2 linked regions of the Homo sapiens genome follow. The protein of the gene in region 2 purifies or fractionates together with the protein of the main gene of each other region. This does not show direct contact. Each region holds a gene or a part of one and is shown on either strand. Other genes may lie near its edges. The genes, in order: NLN and GPRIN3.

The links.
Region 1: the proteins of GPRIN3 (region 2) and NLN purify together in Homo sapiens (affinity purification with mass spectrometry; one large-scale study listed by BioGRID and IntAct). This does not show direct contact.

Annotation. Positions count from the first base shown.
Region 1 is NC_000005.10:65,812,529-65,816,347, forward strand, and holds part of NLN (neurolysin, mitochondrial), read left to right. Parts: intron 1-3,819. UniProt on the Homo sapiens protein: Hydrolyzes oligopeptides such as neurotensin, bradykinin and dynorphin A. Acts as a regulator of cannabinoid signaling pathway by mediating degradation of hemopressin, an antagonist peptide of the cannabinoid receptor CNR1.
Region 2 is NC_000004.12:89,305,516-89,309,434, forward strand, and holds the start of GPRIN3 (G protein-regulated inducer of neurite outgrowth 3), read right to left. Parts: upstream 2,286-3,919; 5' UTR 2,100-2,285; exon of another isoform or gene 1,871-2,099; intron 1,556-1,870; exon of another isoform or gene 1-1,555. UniProt on the Homo sapiens protein: May be involved in neurite outgrowth.

The sequences.
Region 1 (3,819 bases), on a different chromosome or scaffold from region 2:
TTCAAATCATCATACATCATTAAGTTGCAGTATACAAGTGATTAATTCTATAGTTTAAAAAAAACTAGTATATTTTCTTGCTTATTAACATTCTGATATATTACATAATTAAAAATTCAAAGCTTTGTTTATGGATTTGAGAATCTGTAGCTGCTAGTTTTGACATGTACCATACAACATTTTAGTTTTATAGGAGGTTGGGAAAGAAAGGTAAACTCCTTCCTGATGTAAATGGTTTCCCTGTGTTTTGATATTCTCTACACACTTTGTGCACTTTCTGTGGGAGACGCCCTTTTTCTGTGGCTGGCATGCCCCACCCACTACATAGTTTGTGACCTTTGTCACAAAGTTGCTTCGTTAACCTGAGCCATTACTTTCTGTATGCAGTGAATTGACTGCCAGGTAGCTGCCAGACAAACCTTCCTGATTTACAGCCCCCAATCTCCATTCTCATTGAAGTCTCATCCATCAGATTATTTCCAAGGCTGATGCATTTTCCAATGTATGTTTTTAAATTCTTCGATTCAGAAATTAGAAGAACAAATTATCAAAATCAGGCTCTCTGTACTGATTTCAACCAATAGATTTTTTTCTCCAAATGTTTTTTCTAGATTGCATAGTACCTTATACATATGTATTGAAATACATTGATGTGATTTAGATCACCATTCCCTCCCCATCTTCCTCCTGAAATAACACCTCCAAGGTACCCATACTTCATTATTTTGAAGCATTTCATCTCCCATCCCACCCCACCCAATCTGTTAAGTCCTTGTAATTCTTTTTCCATTACCTGGCCAACCCATTTACAAAGGTCAACTGCTGACTATTGTTCTCACAGACATACCTATTCCTGCATGACCTTCAACCAGGACCCATCCCTTAATGCCTCCACCATAGAGATAGTGCCCTTAGGATTCAAAGTGTTCTGGGGAAGATTGTATGACTCCACTGACATGCCCAACTGCAAAGTCATGCATGTAGCCTGAACTGGACCCCAGTGTTCTCTGTGGTCCAACTCCATTCCCCTTATTGATTTCCCTCCAAGTTCCCACCACCTCTCTCATCTGTCAGCAGATGATCTCTCCTCTTTATTAAGAAAATTAAGATCATTGAAGCTGGCTGCAGTGGCTCACACCTGTAATCCCAGAACTTTGGGAGGCTGAGGTGGGAGGATCGCTCAAGTCCAGGAATTTGAAACCAACCTATTTGATATAGCAAGACCTCATCTCTACAAAAAATAAACAGAATTAGCCAGGTGTGGTGGTAGAAGCCTATAGCCCCAGCTACTCTGGAAGCTGAGATGGGAGAGTTGCTTGAGCCTAGGAGAGGTGGAAGCTGCAGTGAGCCGAGATCATGCTACTACACTCCAGCCTGAATGACAGAGTGAGATTATCTCAAAAAAAAAAAAATCATTGAGAATGAGTACCTTCATCTTTCTTTCTGTGTACTTCAATACTTGTCTTATTTTCTCCTGTCTCAGAGGAGATGTCTCTAGCTCCAGGAGTTCCTGGTAAGAGTTCCTGGTTTGCTGTCTTGGAAAAAAAACTTGCTACTGACTCTGATAACCCCAATCAGTGCTACTACTCTGTTCTTTTCACAGCCTAATTTCTTGGTATAAGAAGTCTTTGCAAACCTCTCTTTCCTTGCTTTTGCCCCAACCAACAGAAATGGAAAGTTACCCTTCCTCCGTAGTTACCACTGATGACCCAGTTACCAACTCCAAAGGCCCTCGTCCTTCTTCTTTACCTCCTGCTGCTTGTTATTCCTCTGTCTGTTCACAGCCCTCAGCTGGGCAATCAAACCCTTCTTTACTTCCCAGTACTCCCTGTGTGTTAGACAAGTTTATGTGTTCCCTTAGGTCTCTCCACCTTCACAAATTTATTCGTTCTATTTCGTTCACCTAAAATATATGCCTCCTTCATCTGTGCATCTCAAAAATTCCAGCAGTCTTAATTGAAGGTCTCACTCACATAACTGCATGTTCAAGAAGTCTTTGAAATTATCCAAAACCAAAAGTGATCTTTACATCCTTTGAACATATGAGTGGACTTGGAGGAGTGGACCAAGCCTTCCCCGTCACCTCCTCAGTGCTGCCACTATGTGACCACATACCCAGTACCTTCTCTCATTACCTTTTCTCTTCTCTTTTGGAGAACTGTCCCCAAAACAAATAGAAATTAAAAATCCAAAGATAAAAATAAAAAATGGAAAATAGACTAGTTTTTAAAGAAAAAAGACAAAAAAAAGTGGTCTTGAGCATGGAAGAAGGGCTTCAATAAGCTTTTACTATGTCTGCAATATTTAATGTAACTATTACCAAGTGAAAAAACATCATATTATAAAATATTTTATACCATACAATACGAATGTTGATTTTAAAGTGTGTTTTAAAAAAAAGTACATCAAAATGTCAATGATTATCTTTGGGGATAAGTTTATGAGTGATTATTAATTTTTTCTGTATTTTTCCTAGAGCTTTTCCTTATTTTTACATAGTACATAGATTATTTTAGAAGCCAGAAACAATGTTTCAAAGAGAAAAAAGTCTAACTAGGTAAAGGTACAATTATGACGTCTTACTGGCAATCATTGGTGAGGCTTCCTGGCATAAGTGTACACTGCCTCTCCCAGCCAAGCTTCGCCATCACCTCCTCTGTGCTTGCCCTTATGTGACCATATACCCAGAACCCTCTATCATTACCTTTTCTCTTCCAGCTGTCAAGGTAGCAGCCAAATTACTGATCCCTGTGGTTCCAAGGAACTTGCAAGTGTAATAGAAGCAATTCCTGCATTGTCTTCTCTATACTTCCTCTTATTCTCAGGCTTCACAGTTTGGCAGGCAGCCATACTACTCTTATTTAGACAAAGGTGCTGGGTTGAACTTAGAGAAAGCATCATCCCAACAACTTGGAGTTAAAACTTGTGATGTTGAAAACAATTTTCAGTGTTACTAAAATTCTGGATTCAGCAGTGCTGTTATTATTAGATGTCTTATGCCATAAGGCTGGTGTTAATTCCTTCCTTTACACTTTTTCCTTTCCTTTCAAATGCTCTGAGTATCATGGCACTTCCTGATCCTCTGCTGTCACAGCAATAATGGACCTGGCTCCAAAAGCCAAGAAGAATCCCTTGGCCCCTCACCCTCACACCCTTTGCAGATACTAAAAGATGATTTTTAAACAAACATTTTGTTCCCTCCTACAATATACTATTTGGGGTTTTTTGTTGGTGGCGGCGGGGGATGTTCTTCAAAAAAAAACCCACAAATATTTGCTCTAAAATAACACTTGCCTTACAAAATACAGGTACCCAGTTATTAAAAATTAATGCTTTGGGACAACAATCCTAGTCTCCAAAAAACTTAGATCATTATTATAGCTATGTGTGATGAAGAGAAAAAGAAATTCTTTTGTTGTCCCAAAGCATTAATTTTTGGTAACTGGGTACTTGTATTTTCTAATGTGAGTGTTACTTTAGAGCGAACATTTATTTTAAAAAGAAAAGAGGAAGAAGAACTCCCCCCACAAAAACAATGTATACCACGGAATACAGTGCAGCCAAGAAAAAGAACAAGATCTGAACCCAGAAGGCAGAGGTTGCAGTGAGCCAAGATTGCACCATTGCACTCCAGCCTGGGCAACAAGAGTGAAACTCATCTCAAAAAAAAAATAAAAAGAACAAGATCATGTCCTTTGTAGGGACATGGATGGAGCTGGAGGCCATTACCTTTAGCAAACTAACACAGGAATCAAAAACCAAATACCACATGTTCTCACTTAAAAGTGGGAGCTAAATGATGCGAACACATGGACACGT
Region 2 (3,919 bases):
AGGGCAGGAGCAGCTGCCAATGAAAGAGCTCAAATAAGAGCTGTGGCTAGAATCATGTGTCCTCCTTCTCTGAGCCCAACATTTTATAATTTTGTGATTCCAAGACCAATATTTCCGTGTTTCCTGCAAGCTGCAGATTTTGCAACTGGAAATTCAAACAGTGAAGGATAGCTGGATCTAAATATAGTCTTTTAAGTATGTTGAGGCATAATTAAGAAAATGTTGCAGGAACAAATAATTAAGCATATTGGGCAATTTTTTTGAGGCAATTAAAACACTCAAATTTCAAAACAGCTTGCTGGAATCCAGCCTGCCCTCCAATTGACACTGATCTGACTCATACAACGCCTCAGTCCTCTACTTCCCATGTGAAGCTGATGCACTTGTGATTTTGTCCTAATCATTTTCGTAGAAGTCTAGTTAGTGATTAGGTGAAGGCTCACCACACCACAACACACTGTACATGGCTCTCCATGAGTTCCTCTGCTGTTTCCAAAATAAATTTCAATCATATAACATCTAGGCCTGCAATTGCAATTGCTGTTTTTTTTTTCTCTTTTGAATCAATAACCTATTCCCTCGATTAAAGACACACAAAACTTGAAAAACTAAACACACACAAAAACTCGAAAAAGAACATTCTCTAACGCAAACTCCTGTCTTTTGCAGATAGCAGCAGAGATTTTCTGCTTTGGGCTGTGACTCATGTACCTTTATTCCCACAATTGTTACTCAGGGCAGGCCAATGGTGAGCACAATGGGAAAAGAAAGAATAGGTTATAACTGGAAAATAAGCACATTCGGGCGAAGTACACTCAAAGCATTATCAAAGTAAAATATGCAGCAGCACCAACAAGAGCAAACAAAAGCCCACGCAGGAGATGTGTAAATATTTCATGAAGCAAAGCCTTAATCAACCCTCTCTCCCAAATCTTGCTGGTGTTGTAAACACTTCAGTTTCTTCTAGTCCCACCATGACCCAGATACCTTGCAAAAACAAAATAAAAACATAGTCCAATGGATCTTTAAACAAATGTGTTGTGAAAATATTTAGATGGAGCATACCCAAGTACCGCTTTAACCAAGAGGAAGAAGACACCTTACTCAAAGGTGGGTGCTTCTTGAGTGACTGCTCAGAGCTCTGTTTCTCCCCTCCCCCTCCAAGCCCTTGCCTTTTGCCCACCTCCTCGGCTGCTTTGTGGACATTCACATCGTCTTAACCTTGAACTGCCTACACCCCAAGCGGTGATTTCTCCCAATGGCCCTCCAGAAAGCCCTTGAAACCTGGTCTGGATTCGATGCCTTCCCATCACCCAAAATTCACTTCCCAGTGGCATATTAAGTACCTCTCCTTTTTTCCCTCTTTCACTGTCCATTATTGCGTCTGAAATGATGCCTACATCGTTTCCATCTGCCTGGAGAGCATGAAGATCTTCTGTGTGTGTTGGCTGACAGGCTCCTTCAGACCTCTTCTAAAGCCCATCTTGAAAGAACCGTTTATCACCTCTAGTCTCTACCCTGATTTAATGTGGTTCCAAAGTTCGCCTCTATTAGTGAACATGTCTCTACAACGATTTCCCTTTATCAACCCCTGCCCGCCCTTCCTCTTCTTTCTGCCTACCTCAAGAAAACCTATTTACATATGCATTTATGTATGTGTGTGTATATACACACACATACATACATCCATATGTAATATATATTTCTATGTTTTGACCTTAAAGGGGATAAGCATAGGAAAATGAGACAAATGTCACACACACACACACACACACACACACACCCCTCATATTCGGATATTCGCAGTGTGCAGACCCGATTGATTATAAATTTCCCTGCCCACGATCAGCAGGCGTCTTCTCCCATTTACCTTCAAAGCCAGAGCCAAAGAGAGCAATGACCTTGCAGAGAAATTCATCACCTGCGAGAAAGACTGCCCCTCCTAGAGCGCAGGATGGGACAGAGACAAGAGCAACAGGCAAAGGATCCCTGTGCAAAATGTGGGACCGAATCCCTTCCGCATCCCTACAGAGCACACCACCAGGCTCCGGTCCCCCGCGCTGGCCGCCAGGCGGAGGTGCGCAGGGGGCGTCTCCTACCTGCTCTGCCCGGCTCCGCGGCGCGGCGGGGCCACTGCCTGCGCTGTGGCGGGGGCTTCCCGTCGCATATCCCAAGCACCGTCTCTCGGCGCCACACCGATGGCTCCGGCGGGCCCGCGAGCTGAGGTCCTTCTCAGCCCGGTCCCGGAGCGAGCTCCGTGCGTTCAGGAACTGAAATTACTATGCCAAGAGCAGAGGCGGCGCGCAGCAGTCGGGCGTAGACCGAGGGGGCTGCCCCCACCGCGGGGCTGCAGACGCCGCCGCCGCCCCCGCCGGGCGCAGAGCCAGTTTGGAGGTGAGAGTTCACTTGCCCGACTGTTCATCCGTCAGGCCCGGGGTGTACCCATCTGTCCAGCGCTGCCCAGCCTGAGCATCCGAGAGAGGGGCGACAGCTTTGCAGGCGGCGGCGGCGGCAGCAGCAGCGGCGGCAGCAGGAGGCCGAGCTCCGCCCCCTCCAAACCCCCTCCCCCGCCTTCCCGGTCCTGGGGGAAAGTGTTGCAGCCCAGGCTGCTGAGCGCCGGGCCGGGAGCTAGGAGGGGTCTGGTGGGTTGTGGTTCTGCACCCCTGGAGACCAGAGACAGATGGAAAGTTAAGAAGGGATTAAGGAAGAGGGCTGGGGACCCAGAGCGATTTAGCAGGCATTCTGGCCCTTGCTCCCTCCCACAGGTCACCAGACTCCATGGCTGAGTCTAGACTCTAGCAGAAGGTTTCCAATAAAGCCACGTGCAGTGGAGATCTGAAAGCAAGATCATCCGATAAGTAATATGTTTTGCAAAATGTACAGTATCCTGCGTATTCGGAGAGGCACTGCTGACAGTGTTCCTGTCCCCATCCCCTTCCCGCTACCCCATGGGCTTGGAGGGCTTTGAGGGCTTTGGAAATCTTCCCTGTTGAGCAGCTCCAGAATCCTGAATGGATGTGTAGTATGGTTAGCAGCTGTAGATGGTGCAAAATGATACGATGAAAAGAGCTTCATTATTAACTGGGTATTTGTTGGAAGGCTCTGTGAAAAATGCCTTACATACAGCCTCAGCCTCTTTAATTCTTACTACAACCCATTGAGGTGCCTTACCATGTGGACGAGGAAACAGGCTTATATGATCTAAACACTTTGCTTGAGGTCACACAGTAGTAACCTGCTCAGCTGGGATTCAAACCAATCCAAAATATATCCTCTCATCTAGTACACAGGACTCACCTAGGGGGTCTTGTTAAAATGCTGATTGTGATCCAATAGGTCTGGGGTAGGGACTGAGGAAACGCTTTTTTAGTTTTTTGTTGTTGTTGTTTTTTGTTTTTTGCTTCGTCTCCTAGGCTGGAGTGCAGTGGCGCGCTCTCGGCTCACTGCAAGCTCCGCTTCCCGGGGTCAAGCGATTCTCCTGCCTCAGCCTCCCAAGTAGCTGGGATTACAGGCGCCCACCACCACGCCCGGCTAATTTTTGTATTTTTAGTAGAGACAGGGTTTCTCCACGTTGGCCAGGCTGGTCTGGAACACCTGACCTCAGGTGATCCGCCCGCCTCGGCCTCCCAAAGTGCTGGAATTACAGGCGTGAGCCATGCCTGGCCCAGGATAGGCATTTCTAACAAGCTCCCAGGTAATGCCCATGCTACTGGCCAAAAGATCAAACTTTGCGGCACTATTCACAATAGCAAAGACTTGCAACCAACCCAAATGTCCGTCAATGATAGACTGGATTAGGAAAATGTGGCACATGTATACCATGGAATACTATGCAGCCACAAAAAAGGATGAGTTCATGTCCTTTGTAGGGACATGGATGAAGCTGGAAACCATCATTCTTAGCAAACTATCACAAGAA